Linked DNA regions of Homo sapiens. The protein of the gene in region 6 purifies or fractionates together with the protein of the main gene of each other region. This does not show direct contact. Each region holds a gene or a part of one and is shown on either strand. Other genes may lie near its edges.

What was found.
Region 1: the proteins of RAD18 (region 6) and POLN purify together in Homo sapiens (affinity purification with western blotting; 2 studies listed by BioGRID). This does not show direct contact.
Region 2: the proteins of RAD18 (region 6) and PPP1CB purify together in Homo sapiens (affinity purification with mass spectrometry, with the first as the bait; 2 studies listed by BioGRID). This does not show direct contact.
Region 3: the proteins of RAD18 (region 6) and SLF2 purify together in Homo sapiens (affinity purification with mass spectrometry; 3 studies listed by BioGRID and IntAct, with this or other methods). This does not show direct contact.
Region 4: the proteins of RAD18 (region 6) and SPEN purify together in Homo sapiens (affinity purification with mass spectrometry, with the first as the bait; one large-scale study listed by BioGRID). This does not show direct contact.
Region 5: the proteins of RAD18 (region 6) and WRNIP1 purify together in Homo sapiens (affinity purification with western blotting; 2 studies listed by BioGRID). This does not show direct contact.
Region 7: the proteins of RAD18 (region 6) and SPRTN purify together in Homo sapiens (affinity purification with western blotting; 2 studies listed by BioGRID, with this or other methods). This does not show direct contact.

The regions. Positions count from the first base shown.
Region 1 is NC_000004.12:2,207,622-2,211,121, forward strand, and holds part of POLN (DNA polymerase nu), read right to left. Parts: intron 867-3,500; coding exon 366-866; intron 1-365. UniProt on the Homo sapiens protein: DNA polymerase with very low fidelity that catalyzes considerable misincorporation by inserting dTTP opposite a G template, and dGTP opposite a T template. Is the least accurate of the DNA polymerase A family (i.e. POLG, POLN and POLQ).
Region 2 is NC_000002.12:28,775,830-28,779,329, forward strand, and holds part of PPP1CB (serine/threonine-protein phosphatase PP1-beta catalytic subunit), read left to right. Parts: intron 1-1,021; coding exon 1,022-1,153; intron 1,154-2,979; coding exon 2,980-3,210; intron 3,211-3,500. UniProt on the Homo sapiens protein: Protein phosphatase that associates with over 200 regulatory proteins to form highly specific holoenzymes which dephosphorylate hundreds of biological targets.
Region 3 is NC_000010.11:100,919,463-100,922,962, forward strand, and holds part of SLF2 (SMC5-SMC6 complex localization factor protein 2), read left to right. Parts: intron 1-3,500. UniProt on the Homo sapiens protein: Plays a role in the DNA damage response (DDR) pathway by regulating postreplication repair of UV-damaged DNA and genomic stability maintenance.
Region 4 is NC_000001.11:15,931,207-15,934,706, forward strand, and holds part of SPEN (msx2-interacting protein), read left to right. Parts: coding exon 1-3,500. UniProt on the Homo sapiens protein: May serve as a nuclear matrix platform that organizes and integrates transcriptional responses. In osteoblasts, supports transcription activation: synergizes with RUNX2 to enhance FGFR2-mediated activation of the osteocalcin FGF-responsive element (OCFRE).
Region 5 is NC_000006.12:2,775,393-2,778,892, reverse strand, and holds part of WRNIP1 (ATPase WRNIP1), read right to left. Parts: intron 1-3,500. UniProt on the Homo sapiens protein: Functions as a modulator of initiation or reinitiation events during DNA polymerase delta-mediated DNA synthesis. In the presence of ATP, stimulation of DNA polymerase delta-mediated DNA synthesis is decreased.
Region 6 is NC_000003.12:8,956,973-8,960,472, forward strand, and holds part of RAD18 (E3 ubiquitin-protein ligase RAD18), read right to left. Parts: intron 2,030-3,500; coding exon 1,948-2,029; intron 1-1,947. UniProt on the Homo sapiens protein: E3 ubiquitin-protein ligase involved in postreplication repair of UV-damaged DNA. Postreplication repair functions in gap-filling of a daughter strand on replication of damaged DNA.
Region 7 is NC_000001.11:231,351,793-231,355,292, forward strand, and holds the end of SPRTN (DNA-dependent metalloprotease SPRTN), read left to right. Parts: exon of another isoform or gene 1-817; coding exon 818-1,569; 3' UTR 1,570-3,231; downstream 3,232-3,500. UniProt on the Homo sapiens protein: DNA-dependent metalloendopeptidase that mediates the proteolytic cleavage of covalent DNA-protein cross-links (DPCs) during DNA synthesis, thereby playing a key role in maintaining genomic integrity.

The DNA.
Region 1 (3,500 bases), on a different chromosome or scaffold from region 6:
ACATGAAAAGATGCTCAATGTCACTAGATAATAGGGAAATACAATTTAAAACCACTATGAAATACCACTTCGGAATCACTGGAATGGCTAAAAAAACAGACAACAACATGTGTTGACAAGGAGGTGGAGAATTTGAAACCCTAGTACACTGCTGGTGGAAGGTAAAATGGTACACCCACTCTGGAAAACAGTTTTACAGTTTCCTAAGAAACTGATGGGAGCATACATTGTCAATCACTTACCACTGGAGGGGAAGGAAAGCCTTAAAATCTTGTTTCTAGCTCTCCTATCAAAATCTGACACTAAGAAAATGGGCTTCTTTTATGGTGTCAAGACAGCAAATAAAAACATCACTGTTTACTAACCTGGTCAGCTCCTAGCTGGGTGGAACCATCAGTATACATCACAGTTATCACCAGGGCTGCTGCCTGTTTGAGCATTTCAATCAGCTGGCTTTTTGCCCAATCATCCAAATGCCTAATATCACAAAAATGTTTTTTCAATGCTCCTGAGTTCCCAGAATTTAGGTAGCCTTCGGCGTCATCAGTATCTTCTTCCAATGCCATTTGTTTACTTGTTTTCTCTGACAAATTATTATATGTAATATGTTTTCTTTTAAGATTAATGCTTCCTTTATTTTCATTATTTATATTCTCCATTAGGAAATGCTTTCTTTTATGCCCCTTTTTCTGTAGAACTGAAGCCTCTTGATTATACTGTGGAATTAAACAACTTGAAAGAGTCAATGAGCTGATGCTCTTCTGTTTTTGGTCAGCAGACAGCTGATCTGTGAGCCTGACACTGAAGGACTGAGGAGACAGCTTGGCAGAACCTCTTGATGTCTGACTTCTTAAAGATTTAAGATCCTACAGAAAAATGGAAAATATTTCATTAGAATATGGACTCATAAGACAGATCTATAAACTAAACTAATTTCTGGTAAAAACTTGTCTAAGGTAATATGGAGACACAATCTTCATATTACCTATGATCAAACCTTCTAAGGAAACCCTATAGTGTCTTCTAGAGCAGTGATTTTTCTCAACCAAGGTAGGCATGCATATCTGGATCAAGAGCTCAAAAACCAGCCAGGCGTGGTGGCTCACGCCTGTAATCCCAGCACTTTGGGAGGCCGAGGTGGGTGGATCACTTGAGGTCAGGAATTCGAGATGAGTCTGGCCAACATGGTGAAACTTCATCTTACTAAAAATACAAAAATTAGCTGGCATGGTGGCAGGCGCTTGTAATTCCAGCTACTCGGGAGGCTGAGGCAGGAGAATCACTTGAATTCAGGAGGTGGAGGCTGAAGTGAGCTGGGATTGCACCATTGCACTCCAGCTTGGGTGACAAGAGCGAAACTCTGTCTCGAAAAAAAAGCTCAAAAGCCTCCAACTGGCCCCTGTTCTGGGAATCAGTGCATGTAATGAGACATGTCATGGATAGGATTATGTTGCATATGTGCATAAGAGAGAAGATTAATAATTTACAACTTCCAAGTAAAAGCCATTTGCAGAGAAAAATGAAATCACCAAAACTATTTAACAATATGTTAATCTATCTACTGAAAAAATGTTTTTGGGCCAGGTGCAGTGGCTCACACCTGTAATCCCAATACTTTGGGAGGCTGAGGCTGGCGGATCACAAGGTCAACAGTTCGAGACCATCCTGACCAACATGGAGAAACCTCGTCTCTACTAAGAATACAAAAATTAGTTGGGCATGGTGGAGCATGCCTGTAATCCCAGCTACTCAGGAGGCTGAGGCAGAGAATCGCTTGAACCTGGAAGGTGGAGGTTGCAGTGAGCTGAGATCATGCCATTGCACTCCAGCTTGGGCGACAGAGCAAGACTCCGTCTCAGAAAAAAAAAAAAAAAAAAAAATTAAACCCAGCTCAATAGCAGTTCTCTCATTCCATCAATGTGCAATATGCATTCATAGATCCACAAACTAATCAAGGTGGGGAAAGCAATCCTATCCATTTCATTATAGGACTTATTTACGATAACACTTTATTTTTAAGGTTTCTTTCCTTTTCCTTTTTTTTTTTTTTTTTTTTTTGAGACAGGGTCTTGTTCTGTTGCCCAGGCTGAAGTGCAGTGGCACAATCTCAGCTCACTGCAACTTCCATGTCCCCGGCTCAAGTAATCCTCCCACCTCAGCCTCCCATGTAGCTGTGACTACAGGGGTTCACCACCATATCCAGCGAATTTTTCTATTTTTAGTAGAGATGGGGTTTCACCATGTTCCCCAGGCAGGTCTCAAACTCCTGGACTCAAGCAATCTGCCCGCCTTGGCCTCCCAAAGTGCTGGGATTACAGGTGTGAGCCAACATACCCAGCCAAGGCTTATTTTCAAATTTACTTTATATATATATATAAATTTACTTTATATATATATATATATGGCTTTGAATAACTATATTAACATTACCTTTAAAATAATTTTGAAAGAAAATGTTTTAACACTTGGTCACATGTTATGAAAATTTTAAATTTATACTTGTATTTTTATTGCAGAGAAATATATGGTTTCCAAGAGTAGGCTTTCAAGCATAAAATTACATTAAAAATTCCATGGAGGAGTAAACAAGAAAAGGAATTCAAGGAGAAAAAGAAAAATATAAAATTTCAAACTGTTGAAGATCTTACTCTGTCTTTTTTAAGGGGATGATTGTGGGCTGGGCACAGTGGCTCATACCTGTAATCCTGGCACTTTGGGAGGCTGAGGCAGGAGGACTGCTTGAGCCCAGGAGTTCAAGACCAGCCTGGGCAAAATAGCAAAACCCTGTCCTTTTACAAAGAATACAAAAATTAGCTGGGCATGGTGTCATGTGCCTACGGTCCCAGCTACTCAGGAGGCTGAGGTGGGAGGATCACCTGAGCCCAGGAGGTCAAGGCTACAGTGAGCCGTGGTCACACCACACTGCACTTCAGCCTGTGCGACAGAGTGAGAAAGTCTCAAAATAATAATAATAATAATAATAATAATAATAATAATAATAATAATAATAAAAAAAAGAGGCCGGGCATGGTGGCTCACGCCTGTAATCCCACTATTTTGGGAGGCCCGGGCAGATGGATCACGAGGTCAGGAGTTCAAGACCAGCCTGGCCAATATGGTGAAAACCTGTCTGTACTAAAAATAAAAAAATTAGCCGGGCATGATGGCATGCACCTGTAACCCCAGCTGCTTGGGAGGCTGAGGCAGGAGAATCGCTTAAACCCAGGAGACGGAGGTTGCAGTGAGCCGAGATCGCGCCACTGCACTCCTGCCTTGGTGACAGAGACTCCATCTCAAAACATAATAAATAAATAAATAAATAAATAAATAAATAAATAAATAAAATAGTCCAGGCACGGTGGCTCATGCCTTTAATCCCAACATTTTGGGGGGCTGAGGCAGGCAGATCACCAGAGGTCAGGAGTTCGAGACTAGCCTGGCCAACATGGTGAAACCCCATCTCTATTAAAAACACAAAAATTAGCTGGGTGTGGTGGTGG
Region 2 (3,500 bases), on a different chromosome or scaffold from region 6:
GCAACATTCTGTTCCCCTTCATCCCACAAGTTACTGGAAACCATATTATCTTATGGCTCAGTAATGCAAAGATGCCTCACTCCATCTAAATAGCCTTTAGAGGTTTTAATATAATGATCTATTGGGAATGTAACGATAAGTTAATTTTTAATACATAGCTGATATCTTTTTTGTATTTCTTTTGATCAGAAAGTAGAGATAGGAGTTGCTAAAATTTTGGGGACTGCTGGTAACATTCCAAGAAAGTGTGTGAAGCTAAATCACCTACTGACAATTACTATTTAATCTCCCTTTCTTCATAGCACATTGTTCTTAATGAGGCTGTTTTGACATCCTACTAGATGCGAGATAAGCAGGCCAGACCTTAAAGGGTGCGGGCTCTGAAATGTTTTTTTGTGTGTGTTTTTTTTGTTGTTGTTTTTTTTCTGTTTGTTTGTTTTTTTTTTATTTGAGACGGAGTCTCGCTCTTGTTGCCCAGGCTGGAGTGCAATGGGGCGATCTCAGCTCACTGCAACCTCTGCCCCCGGGTTCAAGCGATTCTCCTAACTCAGCCTCCCAATTAGCTGGGATTACAGGCATGCGCCACCACACCTGGCTAATTTTGTATTTTTGGAGAGATGGGGTTTCTCCATGTTGATCAAGCTGGTTTTGAACTCCCGACCTCAGGTGATCCACCCACCTCAACCTCCCAAGGTGCTGGGATTACAGGCATGAGCCACCGTGCCCGGCCCTGAAATCTTTTAAGTCTCTTTGGCTACTAGGCCCCAGGTTGGTCACAGGACAGCAAAAAACAGGACTGCATTTCATCAACAGCAGACTTGAGGAGCATCATCAGGAACCAGTAACAATGAAAATAGAAGTCAGAGATCATAGAATAACATTATTTTAAACCATGGGACCAAATAGGGTAATTTGCTGCCTGTGTGACTTTTCTGATTTTTAAAGTATGGGCATGACTCTTTTTGAAAGATTATTATGAGTAAATTTTAGAAAACTGACTGTTTTATTTATCGTTTGTCAGTACGAGGATGTCGTCCAGGAAAGATTGTGCAGATGACTGAAGCAGAAGTTCGAGGCTTATGTATCAAGTCTCGGGAGATCTTTCTCAGCCAGCCTATTCTTTTGGAATTGGAAGCACCGCTGAAAATTTGTGGTATGTAAATGGGTAAAGTTGGAAACAACTCTTTTGAATCATGTTTTTCCTCCCATGTTTAAGATCTAGAGAAAACATTTTTTGAAATTTTTGTATAAAACAGATCAGTAGGCTTTACTAAATAAAAGTGTATAAAAATTGAAACTTATAAAAATGACAAGTTACAGACAAGATGAAAATACTTGCTATATATCAACAGATAAAAGGAGTTCTATTTATAATATATAAAGAGTTCTTATAAATAAGAGAAAGGCGATACAGTATAAAAATAACATAGGAAGAGGAAGGTCTTAGAAGAAATTCAAATGGCCAGTAAACATAAGGACGTCAGCTTCTTTTTTTAGTAATCAGTGATGTGCAATTTAAAGCAAGTCTCCAACTCTAGTCAGATTATAAAAAAATACCAAAGATTGATGTTTAGTGTTGTCAAGGATGTCACGAAAAGGGCATCATAGTACACTGGTTAGAAAAAAATAGGTGTATAATTTAGAGGGTCAATATGGCGATATCTGTGGTCTTCTAACTTTGATGTTATTTAAATTTGTTTTGAAGATTATACTACTTTATACCTTGTATTCTTTTAAGTTTTACAGTGACTTTTTTACAGTCCTTTGTACAGTGCCCAGCAAATAAGAGATACTCGCTAAGTAAATGTTTGTTTTTTGTTTGTTTGGTTGGTTTTTCTTTGAGACAGAGTTTCACTCTTGTTGCCCAGGCTGGAGTACAATGGCACAATCTTGGCTCACTGCAACCTCCACCTCCCGGGCTCAAGTGGTTCTCCTGCCTCAGACTCCTGAGTAGCTGGGATTACAGGTGTGAGCCACCACGTCTAGCTGACTTTTTGTATTTTTAGTAGAGACAGGGTTTCTCCATGTTGGCCAGGCTGGTTCTGAATTCCTGACCTCAGGTGATCCACCTGTCTTGGCCTCCCAAAATGCTGGGATTATAGGCATGAGCCACCGCAGCTGGCCAATAAATGTTTGTTGAATGGATCAGTTAACTTAGAATATCACACCTTCAAGTAAGAGGTAGTAGTTCAGAATTTGGGGGAACTAATCAATCCCCTGTATAAACTTAAGCAAATGTAGTTACTTAGAGGTGATCTTAAAATTATTAGAATTAAAGTATTCTTTGAAGGTGTTCTTTAAAATGTAATATAGAAATAACTTGAAGGTAATGGAAGTTATTTGTACTACATATTTCTAAAGGTTTACTATTTGTCTCCATATTTGGTGTTAAAAAGTGACGTAAGTTAAACTACCAGATAATAAAATTGTTTTAGTTACCTATTGTTGTATAATAAATCATTCCAAAACTTTGTGGCTTACAGCAACATTAATTTACCATCTCACAATTTCTGTGGGTCAGGAATTCAGGAACAGCTTAGTGGGTCCTCTGGCTCTGGGTCTCTCACAAGGCTCCAATTAAGGCGTGATCTCGGGCTGCAGTCATCTGAAGGTTGAACTGTGAAAGGATTCAGTTCCTTATAGACTGATGGACTAAGAGCCTCAGTTCCAAATGAGCTGTTGGTCAGAGGCCTCCCTCAGTTCTTTGCTACGTGGGATGCTTCATTAGACAGCTGGTTTCATCAGCGAGCATGGAAGAAGGTGAGAGAGTGCAAGCAAGATGAAAGTCACAGTCTTTTGTAACTTAATCTTGGAAGTGACAGCCCATCTCACTTTCGCTTATTAGAAGTAAGTCACCAAATATAGCCCATACTCAAGGGTAGGGGAGGATTACACAGGATGTGAACATTGGGAATCATTTCATAGAAGCTGCTTATAACAGTAACCAATTTTTCTAAAACTGACTCTTTCTCTTTTTAGGAGATATTCATGGACAATATACAGATTTACTGAGATTATTTGAATATGGAGGTTTCCCACCAGAAGCCAACTATCTTTTCTTAGGAGATTATGTGGACAGAGGAAAGCAGTCTTTGGAAACCATTTGTTTGCTATTGGCTTATAAAATCAAATATCCAGAGAACTTCTTTCTCTTAAGAGGAAACCATGAGTGTGCTAGCATCAATCGCATTTATGGATTCTATGATGAATGTAAGTGAAAATAAAGACTTAGAAAAGTAATTCATGGAAACATTGCCTAATAATTTTCTGGTTCAGAAGAGTTGCTTTGATTCAGAGTTTTTTCAAAATAAGATCTGTCAGGCATAGGCCAGGAAGAGGAACCTGAAACTGGGAAACATGTTACTAATTAAATTGGTTCCTTGAGATCTCCTTGGTCATATTTCAGATTGACTGCAGCTTACTTGGCTGAAGAGGCTCTTTTAAAATTAGTTTATCTAGTAAACTATCCAGGTGAAACAGAAGTCACTGTAGGCAGTGGC
Region 3 (3,500 bases), on a different chromosome or scaffold from region 6:
TCAAGGATATCTACATGACATTAGTTTGTACTTTTAGCATTTATTGATTGAAAAAAATATAAAATAACAAATCTGTTAATTCAGTACATTTTATCTTTTTTTAAAACTAGAAAATAGAAGATTAAAAAGGCAAACACTGCAGAAGTTTGCAACAAGAAATGAAAGGTCTCCACAACTAACAACAGTTAATAGTCTAGTGTATCCGATTTTTTTCCTGATGTGACTATACATTTTGAAAAACAAATTCCCACATTCAGTAAGATACATTGGACACGATAATAATAGCTGGCTTTCATTGAGTACTTACTGTGTGCTATGCCATTTTATGTGCTTCTAATTCGTTTGAACCTCATAACTTTATATGATAGTGGTTTACTTTTAGAGATGGAAAAGCCAAAGTACAGAGAGTCAGTTCTAATTCCTCCTTCAGGTTTCATCTACTTCATTTTATTTATATTTTAGAGGTGCATTGCATTTTGACCAAGAACTCTCAACTGGTAAAATCAATCTTCAGCCAAGGCTGAAACCATATTTTACCATTATAGAAGGAACTTCTAGGATACAGGAATAAATCTAAAGTTTTGTGTGTTTTTTGTTTATTTAATTTTTATAATGTTGCTGATTTTATGACCAAATTTTAGTGAATTTTGACATTATTGTAGAAGAACAGGAATTTCTCAGCCAGGAGATTGCTTCTGCACTCACTGTATTGCACATTTTTAATACTAAATACATGATCACCTTGCACCAAAGTTAATGGAAGAACAAAATATTATTTTATATAAGGGGCTGCTGCTGGTGGTGTGGCTACCACATTATTCCTTTTCTTTTTTCTCTGACTTAAGATTTGAAAAAATCTTTTCATTTCCTGGATTTGCAAATTTCATTCATGGTGGCTAAAGTAGTTTCATTTATATAATCCCACCTAGCAAAGTTTTTGAGTACTGCTTGGAAAAGATGCTTTCTACATATTTTCAGAGGCTGACTTATGATGGTTGCCGTCACTTATATTTTTATTACCAATATTTTTGCATGTGTTTCATAATCACTAATAATTATAGCATTATACTCTTAATAAATATACATTTATACTTCAATTGACTAACATCAACAGAATTTCAACATGTAAAGGACAAGGGGATATTTCAATCTAGATAGCATGAAGAATGCTTATTGTGTCTGATAGCAAAATTATTAAAAATCTAAGCCAGGCGCAGTGGTTCATGCCTGTAATCCCAGCACTTTGGGAGGCCAAGGCAGATGGATCACCTGAGGTCAGGAGTTCGAGACCAGCCTGGCCAACATGGTGAGACCTCGTCTCTACTAAAATTACAAAAATTAGCTGGGCATGGTGCCCAAGCCTGTAATCCCAGCTACTCAGGAGGCCAAGGCAGGAAAATTGCTTGAACCTGGAAGGTGGAGGTTGCAGTGAGCTGAGATGGTGCCACTGCACTCCAGCCTGGGTGTCAGAGCAGGACTCAATCTCGAAAAAAATAAATAAATAAAAATAAAAATCCAAATGATATGTCTTGTTCATCTTGTTAATACACTTAATCAATTGTCATGGTAATGTACATAATCACGCAATCATTAATCACATACAAGTTCAGGGATTTCAGAAGTAATGTTAGACTAGGCATTTAGCCCTTTGGTCTTCTAGAGCCCTGTCTTTTGGCTGAATTGTGAGGGGAAATTTAATCCATTGCTAGTACATTTCGTAACTGATTAATAACCAATCACCTATTAATGGCCTTTGGATTTTTCCTTTTTCTTGAGATGGAGTCTCACTGTCTCCTAGGCTGGAGTGCAGTGGTGAGATTGTAGCTCACTTGCAGCACTGAACTCCTGGGCTGAAGCAATCCTCCTGCCTCAGCCTCCCAAAGTGCTGGGATTACGGGCGTGAGCCACCATGCCCAGCCTCCTTTTTTTCTTTTTACAAACTCAATCTCTCTCTTATATGAATATTTTATGTATTAGTATATTTGAAATATTTGAAAAACTGTAAAACAAATATTCTCTACAGGCTGACAAAGGATACAAAAAGAATTATGAACATTTTGCAATTAATCACCTGACCTGAAGAGCTTGCTAAAGGGGATCCTACCTGCAGTACCAATTCACTTTTCTCTAATTCTAGATGATGAAACCCCTTAATAAGCTGACTTATCCTAAACATCTTCCACAAACAGTGTTTGTCTCCTCCTGGATCAACCCTGAATAATGCCTGAGCAAAGCAGGAATTTCTCCTCATTTCTAGCTATATTTAAATTATCTGACTTCTCTAGAAAAATGGAACAAAACTCAAACTGGCAGCTCTGTAGCTCATTTTTTGTAATCCCATACTTAAAAGTAAGATAATGAGCCAAATCTTCTCTTTTGTTTAGTCATTTAATTTCTCATCCTGTTACCCCTGTCCTTTTTGTAAGACATTTAACCCCAGAAAACTGAATAGGATGGAATGATTTCCTCAGGTAATGGGAGATATCTGTAAAAGAGCAGAGATAAGGGCATTTGTTAATTAGTTAATTTAATTTTTATAAATTGAATTTTTCAGATTATATATTGATCAAGCTATCCAAATAATAATTGCCTCTCAAGTTTGGTTTTGGCGGGTTTATTTTATTTTATTTACTCATTTTGATTCAAGGTCTTACTCTGGTGCCCAGGCTGGAGTGCAATGGCACAATTACAGCTCACTGTAGCCTCACGGGGCTCAAGCAGTCCTCCCACCTGAGCCTCCAAGTAGGTGGGACTACAGGCACATGCCACTGCACCCGGCTAATTTTTGTATTTTTTGTAGAGACTATTTCACCATGTTGCCTAGGCTGGTCTCAAACTCCTGAGCCCAAGTGATCCTCCCAAAGTGCTGGGATTACAGGCATGAGCCACTAGACATGGCCAAAAGATAAGAAATTTTCTAACTAGAGAAGGGATTGACGGGGTTGTACTTTTCGCAGAGGCAGGGTTTCACCTGAGCTCACGAACTCCCACCTTGGCCTCCCAAAGTTGTGGTATTACAGGCATGAGCCACTGTGCCCAGCCATTTTAGGTTTTTAAAGCAACTCTTGGGGAATGGAGACATCTGTCCATGTGCAGAAAATTTGATTTAGGGAAATCTGGTTTGGGGAATACTGATTGCACAAATAGTGAATTTTTTGTGTTTTTTTTTGTTGTTGTTTTGTTTTTTTGAGTTGAAGTCTTGCTTTGGTACCTAGGCTGGTCTTGAACTCCTGGGCTCAAGTTATCTTCCCACCTCAGCCTCCTGAGTAGCTGGGACTATATAGGCACACACCACTGCACCAGGTTAAAGTGAATTTTTTTTTTTTTTTTTGAAACGGAGTCTTGCTCTGTTGCCCAGACTGGCGTGCAGTGGTGCCGTCTTGGCTCAGTGCAACCACCACCTCCCAGGTTCAAGCGATTCTCCTGTCTTGGCCTCCCAAGTAGCTGGGAGTACAGGCACGCACCACCATGCCTGGCTAATTTTTGTATTTTCAGTAGAG
Region 4 (3,500 bases), on a different chromosome or scaffold from region 6:
AGACCACTGGTGACAAAACGGTAGAGGCGCCTTTGGTAACAGAAGAGAAGACTGTGGAGCCAGCTACCGTCTCAGAAGAAGCAAAGCCTGCATCTGAACCTGCTCCTGCCCCTGTGGAACAGCTGGAACAAGTAGACCTGCCCCCAGGAGCAGACCCCGATAAAGAAGCTGCCATGATGCCTGCGGGTGTTGAGGAAGGTTCATCAGGTGACCAGCCGCCTTATCTGGATGCCAAGCCTCCAACTCCCGGGGCCTCGTTTTCCCAGGCAGAGAGCAACGTAGATCCAGAGCCTGACAGTACCCAGCCACTTTCAAAACCAGCTCAGAAGTCTGAGGAAGCCAATGAGCCAAAGGCCGAAAAGCCAGACGCCACTGCAGATGCTGAGCCTGATGCAAACCAGAAAGCCGAAGCTGCTCCTGAGTCTCAGCCCCCAGCTTCTGAAGATTTAGAGGTTGATCCTCCAGTTGCTGCAAAGGATAAAAAGCCAAACAAAAGCAAGCGTTCAAAGACCCCTGTTCAGGCAGCTGCAGTGAGTATCGTGGAGAAGCCCGTCACAAGGAAGAGTGAGAGGATAGACCGGGAAAAACTCAAGCGGTCCAATTCTCCTCGGGGAGAAGCACAGAAGCTTTTGGAATTGAAGATGGAGGCAGAGAAGATTACAAGGACTGCTTCTAAAAACTCTGCTGCAGACCTTGAACATCCCGAACCAAGTTTGCCTCTCAGCCGAACAAGGCGCCGGAATGTAAGGAGCGTCTATGCAACCATGGGTGACCATGAAAACCGCTCTCCTGTCAAAGAGCCCGTTGAGCAACCAAGAGTGACCAGAAAGAGATTGGAGCGAGAGCTTCAGGAGGCTGCAGCGGTTCCCACCACCCCTCGGAGGGGAAGGCCTCCAAAGACACGCCGGCGAGCCGATGAAGAGGAGGAGAACGAGGCCAAGGAACCTGCAGAAACACTCAAGCCACCTGAGGGATGGCGGTCGCCAAGGTCCCAGAAAACTGCAGCTGGTGGTGGACCCCAAGGGAAAAAGGGAAAAAATGAACCGAAGGTGGATGCTACACGTCCTGAGGCCACCACTGAGGTGGGCCCCCAAATAGGCGTGAAAGAGAGCTCCATGGAACCCAAGGCTGCTGAGGAGGAGGCAGGGAGTGAACAGAAACGTGACAGAAAAGATGCTGGCACAGACAAAAACCCCCCTGAAACCGCCCCTGTTGAAGTTGTAGAGAAAAAACCGGCCCCTGAAAAAAACTCCAAATCAAAGAGAGGAAGATCTCGAAACTCCAGGTTAGCAGTGGACAAATCTGCAAGTCTGAAAAATGTGGATGCTGCTGTCAGTCCCAGGGGGGCTGCAGCACAGGCAGGGGAGAGGGAATCTGGGGTGGTGGCAGTCTCCCCTGAGAAAAGTGAGAGTCCCCAAAAGGAGGATGGTTTATCATCCCAGTTGAAAAGTGATCCAGTTGATCCAGACAAGGAACCAGAGAAAGAAGACGTGTCTGCCTCTGGGCCGTCCCCAGAAGCCACCCAGTTAGCCAAGCAGATGGAGCTGGAGCAGGCCGTGGAACACATCGCAAAGCTCGCTGAGGCCTCTGCCTCTGCTGCCTATAAGGCAGATGCACCAGAGGGCCTTGCCCCAGAGGACAGGGACAAGCCTGCACACCAAGCAAGTGAAACAGAGCTGGCTGCGGCCATCGGCTCCATCATCAATGACATTTCTGGGGAGCCAGAAAACTTCCCAGCACCTCCACCTTATCCTGGAGAATCCCAGACAGATCTGCAACCCCCCGCAGGTGCACAGGCGCTGCAGCCTTCTGAGGAAGGAATGGAGACAGATGAGGCTGTATCTGGCATCCTGGAAACTGAGGCTGCTACAGAATCTTCTAGGCCTCCAGTCAATGCTCCTGACCCCTCAGCCGGCCCAACAGATACCAAGGAAGCCAGAGGAAATAGCAGTGAAACCTCACACTCAGTGCCAGAAGCCAAAGGGTCTAAAGAAGTGGAAGTCACTCTTGTTCGGAAAGACAAAGGGCGCCAGAAAACAACCCGATCACGCCGCAAGCGAAACACAAACAAGAAAGTGGTGGCTCCTGTAGAGAGCCATGTCCCTGAATCCAACCAAGCTCAAGGTGAGAGTCCTGCTGCAAATGAGGGGACAACAGTACAGCACCCCGAAGCCCCACAGGAAGAAAAGCAGAGTGAGAAACCCCATTCCACTCCTCCTCAGTCATGTACTTCTGACCTAAGCAAGATTCCCTCCACAGAGAATTCGTCCCAAGAAATCAGTGTTGAGGAAAGGACTCCAACCAAAGCATCTGTGCCCCCAGACCTTCCCCCACCTCCCCAGCCAGCACCGGTGGATGAGGAGCCTCAAGCCAGGTTCAGGGTGCATTCCATCATTGAAAGTGACCCGGTGACCCCACCCAGCGATCCAAGCATCCCCATACCCACACTGCCTTCTGTAACTGCAGCAAAGCTCTCACCTCCTGTCGCCTCTGGGGGGATCCCACACCAGAGCCCCCCTACTAAGGTGACAGAGTGGATCACAAGGCAGGAGGAGCCACGGGCTCAGTCTACTCCATCTCCAGCTCTTCCCCCAGACACAAAGGCCTCTGATGTTGACACCAGCTCCAGCACCCTGAGGAAGATTCTCATGGACCCCAAGTATGTGTCTGCCACAAGTGTCACTTCCACAAGTGTCACCACAGCCATTGCAGAGCCTGTCAGTGCTGCCCCTTGCCTACATGAGGCCCCGCCCCCGCCAGTTGACTCTAAAAAGCCTTTAGAAGAAAAAACAGCACCTCCAGTGACAAACAACTCTGAGATACAAGCCTCGGAGGTGCTGGTAGCTGCTGACAAGGAAAAGGTGGCTCCAGTCATTGCTCCCAAAATTACCTCTGTTATTAGCCGGATGCCTGTCAGCATTGACCTGGAAAATTCACAGAAGATAACCTTGGCAAAACCAGCTCCTCAAACCCTCACTGGTCTGGTGAGCGCACTCACTGGCCTGGTGAACGTCTCCCTGGTCCCGGTGAATGCCCTGAAAGGCCCCGTGAAGGGCTCAGTGACCACACTGAAAAGTTTGGTGAGCACCCCTGCTGGGCCCGTGAACGTCCTGAAAGGGCCTGTGAATGTTCTTACGGGGCCAGTGAATGTTCTCACCACTCCAGTGAACGCCACGGTGGGCACAGTGAATGCCGCCCCAGGCACAGTCAATGCCGCTGCGAGTGCAGTGAATGCCACAGCAAGTGCAGTGACCGTCACAGCGGGTGCGGTTACTGCTGCATCTGGTGGTGTAACGGCCACAACAGGCACGGTGACAATGGCAGGGGCAGTGATTGCGCCGTCAACAAAGTGCAAACAGAGAGCGAGTGCTAATGAAAACAGTCGGTTCCACCCAGGGTCCATGCCTGTGATCGACGATCGTCCGGCAGACGCGGGCTCAGGGGCGGGGCTGCGTGTGAACACTTCTGAAGGGGTTGTGCTCCTGAGTTACTCAGGGCAG
Region 5 (3,500 bases), on a different chromosome or scaffold from region 6:
TATGGAAAACATGTTCCAAATGCAGCCTACATCCGATGAGACAGATGTGCTTAGACCACTTTCCACACAGGGGAGAGTCAGCATTATATCTGAATATTAGCTCTGAAGGGCTCCAGATCATGCAGTTCAATTCCTTCATTTTAAAAACAACAAATTGGGTCCCTAGTTACTCTGAGCACAGCAGGTCCTAGAAGCAGGTCTCAGGATTCTCTTGGCCTGGGGAATCTTGGGATGCTGCAGTAGGTCATCTCATAGTGGACACTAATCATGCAAAATCCGCACAGGGTAGCAGAGAGGTCATTAGCCTGGGAAGCGACGAGAAGACTGCTGGTACATAGCCATGAGACCCTGGGTAAGCCACCTAACCTCTCTCTGAACATCAGGACTAAAACTTACAGTCACATTTCTAAATTTGGACCCTCATAAATAAGATCTAACTATGATCAGAAGGCTGACTCAGTAAAATTTTCTATCCCTAGTTGAGTTAAACAAGACATCTAACACATTTCATAACTTAGTGGGGTCTTATTCCTGGCTGAGCTGCTAGCTGCACATTTGTGAAGCAAAAAAATAAAATTTTTCAGTTACAGTTCACCCATGTCATCAACATTCAGCTGAGAACATCTACAGTAAATAATAAGCCCATTAGGACTGTCCGAATCAGCTACCTGGAAAACAATGTACAGGCACCAACGGGGCTGGGCCGGGGAGGGGTGGCAGTTTCCGAAGGGGACCCAGCTTGCCTGCTGGATCAATGCAGAACTCCTCAGCATACACCCACTCACTGACACTACTCTGCTCACTGAGTAACCCAAATAACACCAATCTGCATTTCATTCACGGAAGGATTTGTTCCCAATGCCTTAAAGATGCCTCATCTCACCCCCATATTTACCAAAGTTGATTTCCAGTTATTCCTTGTGGGTCTCTCACCACACCTAAGACAACTGGCCAGCCCCAGCTTTACAACAAATGACTCTCTCCTCACTCATGCCAACTGCCTGGGCCCCAGAGCCAGTGGTGCAGCCTGGAGACCCATCTTCCTCTCTCCTGATGGTAGCATTCTCTCAGCAGACCTCACCAGAACAACAAAAAAACAAACACCGAGGCCATGTCACTGGCACTCTATAAAGCCTGGGGATCACTGCTCAACCAGAAATTAGTTAGCAAGTCTTCTGGAAGATGATTTAGAAGATAATGATGGACAGAACATATACTAAAGAAAATGTATGGGGAAGGACCAGCATCACAGGGGTGTAGCAGTACGTGACATGCCTGAGAGGGAAGGGTGCACTCTCAGCCCCTTACTGCACTCAACCTGTGTGGGAAGACAGGTAGGGAGAACAGAAACTGCTTGGGCATCTCATTTCTGCCTCAGAACTAGTAAAAACAATGGATTCTCTCTCCTTGGAAAGCTGCCTAGCAACAAAAAGCCTTCAGGACAATTGAGGGAAGAAAAAGGAGTCAAAGCAGGAGCCCCATTGGATCCTAACGGACTGAACTAGCCTATATCCTGCACCATGGGTTGGATTGTGTGTTGATTACATTACATTCATCATCCCTACTATGCGGAGCACCTCAAGGAGAGGAATATTTTATTCTTTGTATTCCCAGACCTGGTAGATGATAGGCATCCAATATTTGCAAAATGAATGGACTAACTTCAGTTTTATCATAATCTCAGAGTGAAACCTTTACTTCTTATAAATTATATGGAAAGTATAGAGAAAACAAAAAGAATCCATATTTCCAGCACTGAGAGATAAAAATGTACTTGATATTTCCAGCAGAATGAAAGCTACTGTGCCAAGTGCTGACTTTACGATCCACTCACCCATGCAACCATCAACCTTACAGCTAACCTAAAACAAAAACTGGGACCATATTTTACATAGTTTTACATCCTTAACCATTAAATAATTGTTTGAAAAACAAGCTACTCAGACCTGTCAACATTTACTTTAAAAAAATTTACATTAAATTTTAAAAATAGACAAAGGGAGAAAATTCACCTTCTGCTAGACTACCTTGACGTTAGTATTTTGGTATGTATCCCTTCTCCATGAATTTGTCTTTTGTATGTATTTAGGGGCATGGCATGCTCTTTGGACAGTGACGAGATGGGCAGCCTTATATACCATGGTATTTACTAGTATAAACTGCCTCATTTCCATTAGTCCTCATATACAGACAGGGAGGCAGGCCTTATTAATTAGGACAGAAGCCAGCTAGCCGTCTACTCCATTGATTTATCAACAGTATGCTGTGAATAAGTCTTTAGCAATGATTATGTATTTTATGTGGTTGGAAAATAAGGTCTTCCTTTGGCTTTTAAACTCCTGACCAAAGTACAAGTGGTTCCACACTTCTGGTTTGGAGTCATGGGGAATGGAGGTGCTGCCACAACGAAAGCTACCTGAGCTCGCGCCACTCCCTTCTTCTTCCTCCCCTTGGGTATAATCCACATTTTAAATTTCACCCCGTCCAAAAGAAGAAAGTATTTCGAGGCCCAGATCAATCTGTCGGCAACTCTGTCCAAGTAATACAGGACCTGCTGACAGCACTCACAATGATCACACAAGAAAATTACAAAATGGAGATTCACTGTGAAGACGACTGAGCAGGGAAAGGTTCCACTTAAACACCCAATATATCTTGAACTCCCATTTACTAAGTTCTGAAGAACGAAGTAAGATATACTAAAATACCCTGAGATCTTAGAATGGGAAGCCCATGAGAGAACTCATGCCAAGAATGATGAAGGGATAGTTGTATTGATATTGGCAAAATCCCTCAGCAAACTGCGGCACAAACTATTTTGAAAGAGTGTTCCCAGTCTAGAGAATTTACAATTATTTTTAAATTTAAGCATATATTAAAATTAAGCATATATTTATAAAGTGTTTTGCACTTAAAAATAACCTTCCAAAGGTAGAATACAATAAAAAGAGGTAAAATCTATTCTGGGGATAGACTGCCCAAAATGTCATAACATCCTACATGGAAATAAACAATAGGAAGTAAATTATGTTGTTATAATAAAACACTATTTATAATAAGGGAAAATTGGTTAAAATAAATGCATTGGAAAAGATTCTATTTCTAGTTAACAAAACCTAGAGATAGAAACAGACTTAAGAGAGCTTGGCTTCTCCAACTGATGAGAAGGGCTTTAATTTTAACAGAAGAATATAGGAAGCTCTCTTCTTTCCTCTTCCAGGTGCCTAAATCCTGAAGCTTTCTACACATTGGGTAATACTGGAATTTGGAGGATACTACTTAGACAGCTGGATATGTAAGTTGGAGAAGGAGTGCAGTAAGTAAAAATGTACCTGTTATTTCAAGGCAGAATGAAAGAATATGCATGGCTTGGTTAAACTCTCCCTCTCTAAATTACAAACCAAACCCCACAAATCTCTTCCACTAAGGAAAAGGAACATTTCATGGTCAGGGTGATAACTGCTGTGTAGAAGTTTCAACCAGGGATATGCATCAAGTTA
Region 6 (3,500 bases):
ATAAAGGCATATAGATCAGAAAGGAATGAGTAAAACTGTCTTTATCCACAAATGACATGATTGTGTATGCAAAAATTTCTAAGGAATCAACAAAAAAGATGCTGGAATTAAAGTGAATTTACTGCAGTCAGAAGACGAAAGGTCAATATAAGTTATATTTCTTTGTGCAAGGTCTGTGCAATGAAAATCAAACAACACTGTTGAGAGAAATAAAGATAGAGAAGTGTATCATATTCATACACTGAAGACTCGGCATTGTTAAGATGTCAATTCTCCCAAATTGATCTCTAGATTCAATACAATTCCAGTGAACATCCCAGCAGGCTTTTGGTAGAAATTGACAACCTGATTTTAAGTTATACATGGAAATGCATTTAAAATGCAACGATCCTAAAAAAAACGAAGAAAAAAAAGTTGGAGGACTTACAATGCCTGACTTCAAGACTTACTACAAAGCCACAGTAATCAAGATAGTGTGGTACTGGCACAAGGATAGACATATATGAGTCTAGCATATAAGCATTTTAAAATATTGTACCTTGAGGTATTTACTGCAATAGGGGTTATCCTATCATTGTTCAGGAGTTAGACAAACAGTTTACAGATTATTTAGGTTCATGCTCTTTCCTGTTCTCTATTTTCAAGTTGATTTATCTTGGAAAGCTAAAGCAACAGTAAACTTAGGCCTAAACAATTGGTTTTAGTGGGCAGTAGTTTTGGTGAAAAACTACTAAGTTTCTAAGATCAATGGAATAGAAGAGTCCAGAAATAGACTACAGATGGCTAGCTGAGGTCATACTGACTGAGATGGGGAGAAATTTATCAGATAATGAAAATGTTCAGTATCTTAATTGCAGTAGTAACACAGCATACACATTTGTCAAAATTCATGAACACTTTTATACCTTAATGTGCACTTAAAATGGATGTATTTTATTGTATGTAAATTACACCCAAATAAAGATGATGTTAAAATATATTTTAAAACAATCTCCAAAACTTATCTTGGTTTTTAATGTGAATCTTGTCTGGAAGAAAACTAACATTGTTAAGGACTCATAATGTGCCGGACAGTGAGTTCTGCACATTTAATTCTCACAAACATTTTCTAAAGTAGTAAATTCTCACCCGATTTTCAAGAGTCAAGCCCAAGGGCATCTGCAATGCCCGTGCTGCCGTCACTGCTACCCTCTTACTATGTCTTCTCCACAGAAACTTTTCCACCAAAGCTACTACCAACTAAAACCAATTTCTTAGGCCTAAGTTGACTGTTTTTAACTTTCCAAGATAAATCAACTTGAAAATAGAGGACAAGAAAGATCATGAACCTGAATAACCCATAAACTGTATGTCTAGCTCCTCAACAATGATAGGGTAACCCCTATGCACTAAATATCTTAAGGTACGATATTTTTAAATGCTTATATACTAGACTCTTAAAGAGAAGTACAAACAAATTCCAACATGAGTCTTTCCAGCGTCACATAGCAGTTAAGGTATAAAACTGTCTGTAATAAAGTCAGTGGTAGAATTCTCCCACTGGGGCAATATTCTTATTGTTACAGATTTTTAAACTTTGAAATTCTATATCAAGTACTACTTGGTGGAACCACCTATCTGTTATCCTGTTAAAAACAAAAATTCTGAAACTTAACGTCAAAAAACACTTGGCAAATAAAGAACCACTTATTGTGACCAAAAATTTTACTGCCATAAATGCTATAAGAATCATAAAAATATCAAAGAGGAACGAGGTAGAAAATATAGAAGCCTTGTAAAAACCTTCAATATTCAAGAGGAAGGCAGTGAAAAAGACCTTCTGAAAAACTACAAGATAGAAGAGCTAAAGGTGAAACATAAATATGTGCACATATCTTTGGTGTTAAATTAACACTACCTCATGTAAAAATCGCAATTTACTAACTCACAGGAACAAAACATACTTACAGTTATGTGAACACTGAGGTATTATCATTGCAATGTTGAAATACTCGAAGCAAATTCCACACCGCAGCAAATCATCTATTGTCTGAAATGCAAATATGCATATATACATATCAGAAAGACATCAAAATTGGAAGTCCTGTCACAAAACTTTTTCTCTATCCCCTAAAAAAAAAATCAAACTCTTTGTCAAATACACAAATTCAAAAGCTAACTCCAGATAAACTGCAAGGGATCTTGACAAATAAATAAAAACTTCTCTCATATGACTCTTATACATTCAGTCTCAGGTTGCCCAAATTGCTTTAGACAGCTAAAGATGATGGCACACCGATTCTTGTGCCATATTGTCATCCCTTCACATAAGGGCTACTGTACTTCTGTTCCACTTCTAATGCGCTTCCAGCTCTTACTCCAAGCCTCCTCCTCTTCAGACTCCAACACCTAGCCTATAGTCACTATTGGGTGAAAGGTGGCCATTGCCACCACACAAGTTAAGAATCAAATCAAAGAATGTTAAAGCCAAACTCCAGAAACTGTCTAGTCAAAAGAGGAAACTGGTATCAAAAGCAGGCACACAATAGTAGGCATCAGTCAAGCCAAGACCAAAATTCCTGTCTCCCGTCTGGCAGTCCAGTGCTTTCGGCATGGTACTACACATGCAGCCAAATGAGGAAGCCTGGAAAGAGCTGGGGCAGTGAAAGCAGAGGAAGGGAAAGTGGACAACTTGGAAAGAGAGATGTGTGCCAACCTGGAATGCAATCCAAACAGGAACGGAACTACTCTGGCAACCTAAAATCTTTCAAATTGTTTAAAATAAAATATTATTCCATTCAACAGAAATATTTTTTAAAAGGAGGAAGCTCTCGACGGGAGGATCGCTTGAGTCCAGGAGGCGTAGGTTGCAGTGAGCCCACATCGCACCACTATACTCCAGCCTGCATGACCGAGTGAAACTGTCTCAAAAAAAAAAAAAAAAAAGAGGAAGCTCTCCATCATACTGATATGAAAAGATTGCCAAGATAAGTGAAAAAAGGAAATAAGGTATAGACAGTACATATACTATGCTACGGTTTGTTTAAAAGGAAGAGGTGAGTAAGAATGTATTCTAATAGGCCTAGCATGGTGGCTCTGTAATCCTAGCACTTTGGGAGGCCAAGGCAGGAGAACTGCTTGAGTCCAGGAGTTTGAGACCAGCCTGGCAAAATAACAAAAATCCATGTCTATAAAAAATTTAAAAATTCGTTGGGAGTAGTGGCGCATGCCTGTAGTCCCAGCTACTCAGGAGGCTGAGGCGGAAGGATTGCTTTAGCCCAGGAGTTCAAGGCTGCAGTGAGCCGTGATTGCCACTGCATTCCAGTCTGGGCGACAGTGAGACCCTATCTCAAAAAAGAAAAAAAGGAAAAAAGAATGCATTCTATTTTCATTGTAAATGTAAATAATGAGAAGATAAACAAGAAGTCATAAATAATGATCAGGGCCAGGAACATGGTAAGAAGGAGACTTTTACTTTTTATTTTATGTGTATTTTGAACCATGTGAACCTATTACCTGAA
Region 7 (3,500 bases), on a different chromosome or scaffold from region 6:
ATGGATATTTTTATTTTTATTAACTTTTTTCAGTTTCTTTTTATTCAAAGAAACAAAATTCAATCTCTGATAATATTTGAGGTAAAGTTCCTTTCCCTATCTTGACTCACTGAGTTATTAGGAAACAGAAGGCAAAAAGATTGTCAAAATAAAAACAATAATTCAAGTAACAATGCCCGGAATATACGTCCTAACTACACCCCTTCCTATCAGCTGGATTCTATCCAAGTGACTCTATTGATGTATGTATGTTCATTCAAAGAATGGGAAAAGGATATGACATATATTTGCCAGTACTTCATCTTCAAGATTTACCCTTTTCCTGTGAAGTTCAGAGTTACTGAAGATGCTTCTTCCCTTGGGAAGTTGTTGACCCAAGAACATAGGTTATATTTCCCAAATCTTTAATTATTGAGTGAAAGAGCTATAGATGAATTGATATGGAAAGACCGTATCTTCATTTTCGTGAGTAGAAGGAAAGATAAGAATGAGGCAGCAGATTTTCCCTCCTGGAATTACACATAAAGGACACTAAGCAATTTTCAAGGTAAATGTTGCCTTGTTGTTGGTCTTTGGCATGATAAGATTCTTTATTTAAATATGAGAGAATTTTTTTTTATCCTTTATATTCTCTCAATATCAGAACTCCTGAATTCTGAAGATTGCCCTCCTCCCATTAATAGGATTGTATGGATGTAAGATGGAATAAAATACTAGTTCTTCATTTTGAGAAAACTGTACATTAGTTTAATGTTTGTTACTGTATTTCTTTTGAGTTGAGGCACTTACATAACAATCTTCTTTGCTTTTTTGGCAGATAAACCCAACAGAGGTGAGGCCCAGCTAGTAATCCCTTTTAGTGGGAAAGGATATGTTCTAGGAGAAACAAGCAATTTACCTTCACCTGGGAAACTGATCACTTCACATGCCATTAATAAAACCCAAGATCTTTTAAATCAAAACCATTCAGCAAATGCTGTAAGACCTAATTCTAAAATCAAGGTGAAATTTGAACAGAATGGTTCAAGTAAAAATTCTCATCTGGTCTCCCCTGCTGTTAGTAACAGTCACCAAAATGTTCTAAGCAACTACTTTCCTAGAGTATCATTTGCCAACCAAAAGGCTTTCAGAGGTGTGAATGGATCTCCAAGGATAAGTGTAACAGTTGGCAACATCCCTAAAAACTCAGTCTCTTCTAGTTCTCAGAGAAGGGTTTCATCTTCTAAGATATCCCTAAGAAATTCTTCAAAAGTAACGGAATCAGCATCTGTGATGCCATCCCAGGATGTGAGTGGGTCTGAAGATACATTCCCAAATAAACGACCTAGGCTAGAAGATAAGACTGTTTTTGACAATTTTTTTATCAAGAAAGAGCAAATAAAAAGCAGTGGTAATGATCCAAAGTATAGTACAACCACAGCTCAGAATTCCAGCAGTTCATCCAGTCAGAGCAAAATGGTTAATTGCCCAGTTTGTCAGAATGAAGTTCTGGAGTCTCAGATTAATGAGCACTTGGACTGGTGCCTTGAAGGTGACAGCATCAAAGTCAAAAGCGAAGAAAGTCTTTGAAAAAGGTTTCAAAGTCTCAAGTACCACCTGTATTATCTCACTAATGTGCTATGTCAGCCAGTCAGGAAGTTCTGGTTAATACTAAGATTTGTAGGTTATAATCTAGTTCACATAACCAATAGAAAGTGTCCTATTTTATATATACGCATATAAGATTGTAATTTTAAGATGTTTTGTGTCTCAGGGTGCTACATTCACTCTTGCCTTAGGTATACTGTAACCCAGGTTCTGCCTGTCGTGTATAAGTTTTAGATACTTTTGTTCTTTCTTGCTCTTAAGGATTTTAAAAACCTGTTAATCTTTTTATTTGTATACTTTCCTAAAAATATTCATATGGGGAATCCTGTCAGGTGTTTGGTTATATTGACTATTTATTAATAGTATTAGAACTCATTCCCTGAACTGATGTAAATCTTCATAGTGTCAGACATACTGACCAAAACCACAATCTAGACTACAAAGTATATTGTTTTAGAGTACTCAAATTGTATTATTTATTAATTTTTTTGTTTGCAAAATCTTAACAGGAACTGTATTTTCTATATTTTAAAGAATTTTATTTGTCCCACTTTTACTAAACAGTGGCAGCAGATTTTAAGTTAAAGAATATGGAATATAGTAAAATAAGTAAATTTCTTTTGGAATATTTTTAGTAACAAATAGCCACTATAATTCTGTAGGCCAAATTTTATATTGAGTTTAGCTGTTTTCTCAAAATTTAGCAGAGTGGTTAAAATTCTGTGCTGATAAGTAACTGATACATATAACATAAACATAACAAAGTTGCCTAGTTGATGTAACAGTGGAAAGTTATCTGGAAATAGTATTTTGAACTTTAAGCCAAGTTTAAAACATTATAATAAAAGGAATACCATTTGTGCATTTTAAGTAATCTTTTTTAAAAAAAATATTTTCCATGTTATAGGGAAAGGACAAAGAGACTTTTATCAGTTTGCTTTTTGTCTTGTGGCTGTACATGCTGTTGGCATAGCCCTAACACAGTTGTTCACAAGTTTTCTTTTTTCTTGTTGCAATTTTCCTTCACTTTGTTGTAATACAGGTGCACAAATCTTAAGTGCACAGCTGGGTAAACTTTTACAGTGTTCACCTGTGTAACTACCACCCGGATCAAGTTAGAGAACACTTCCATTGCCACAGAAGGCTTCCTATAGGTGTCTGTTCCCAGTTGATACCCATGACCCTCACCACCTCCAGAGGTCCCCACTGTTTTCACCCCATCGTCGCAGATTATTTTTTAATTTTATAATGTAGTATCTTTGTTCCTATGTATAGCAGGAGTTCATTTTCATTGCTCTTGCATTTGTATGAATATACTAGAATTTATTCATCCATTCTAATGTTAATGGACATTTGAATTATTTCCAGTTTGGGGCTGTTAAGCATAATGCTGCTAAGAACATTCTTATCTTTTCTGTTGGGTATATATACAGGAATGGAATTGCTGAGTCACGGGGTATATTTCTGTTTAGCTTTAGTAAATTCTGCCAGTTTACACTCCTACCAGCAATGTATGAGAGTTTTAGTTGTTCACCATTCATAACACTGTTAGCAGCCCTTTTCGTTTTAGACTGGTTGGCTGTTCACAAATTTTGATATTCCTTAAAGCATTAAAACATTTTAATAAATACTTATAAATAGGTATTAAAATGTATATTATGTTCAATATATAGTTATATTTTCATAGAGGATCATTTCTCTAAATGAATGTAACAAATTATGTGTAATTAAATGCTTCCTGAGCCAAAACCACACAAGGTTCTGGGGCTGTGAAGTAGCTGAGATGGTCCATGTCCTCAAGGAGCTTTACAGCATAGTTGGGGAGTAAGACAAATGCACATTAATCTCCTTAGAGTTTGCTAAGTGCTATGACAAGGGTTTTTGCTGGGTGCTGTGGGTAAACTGTAGGAAGA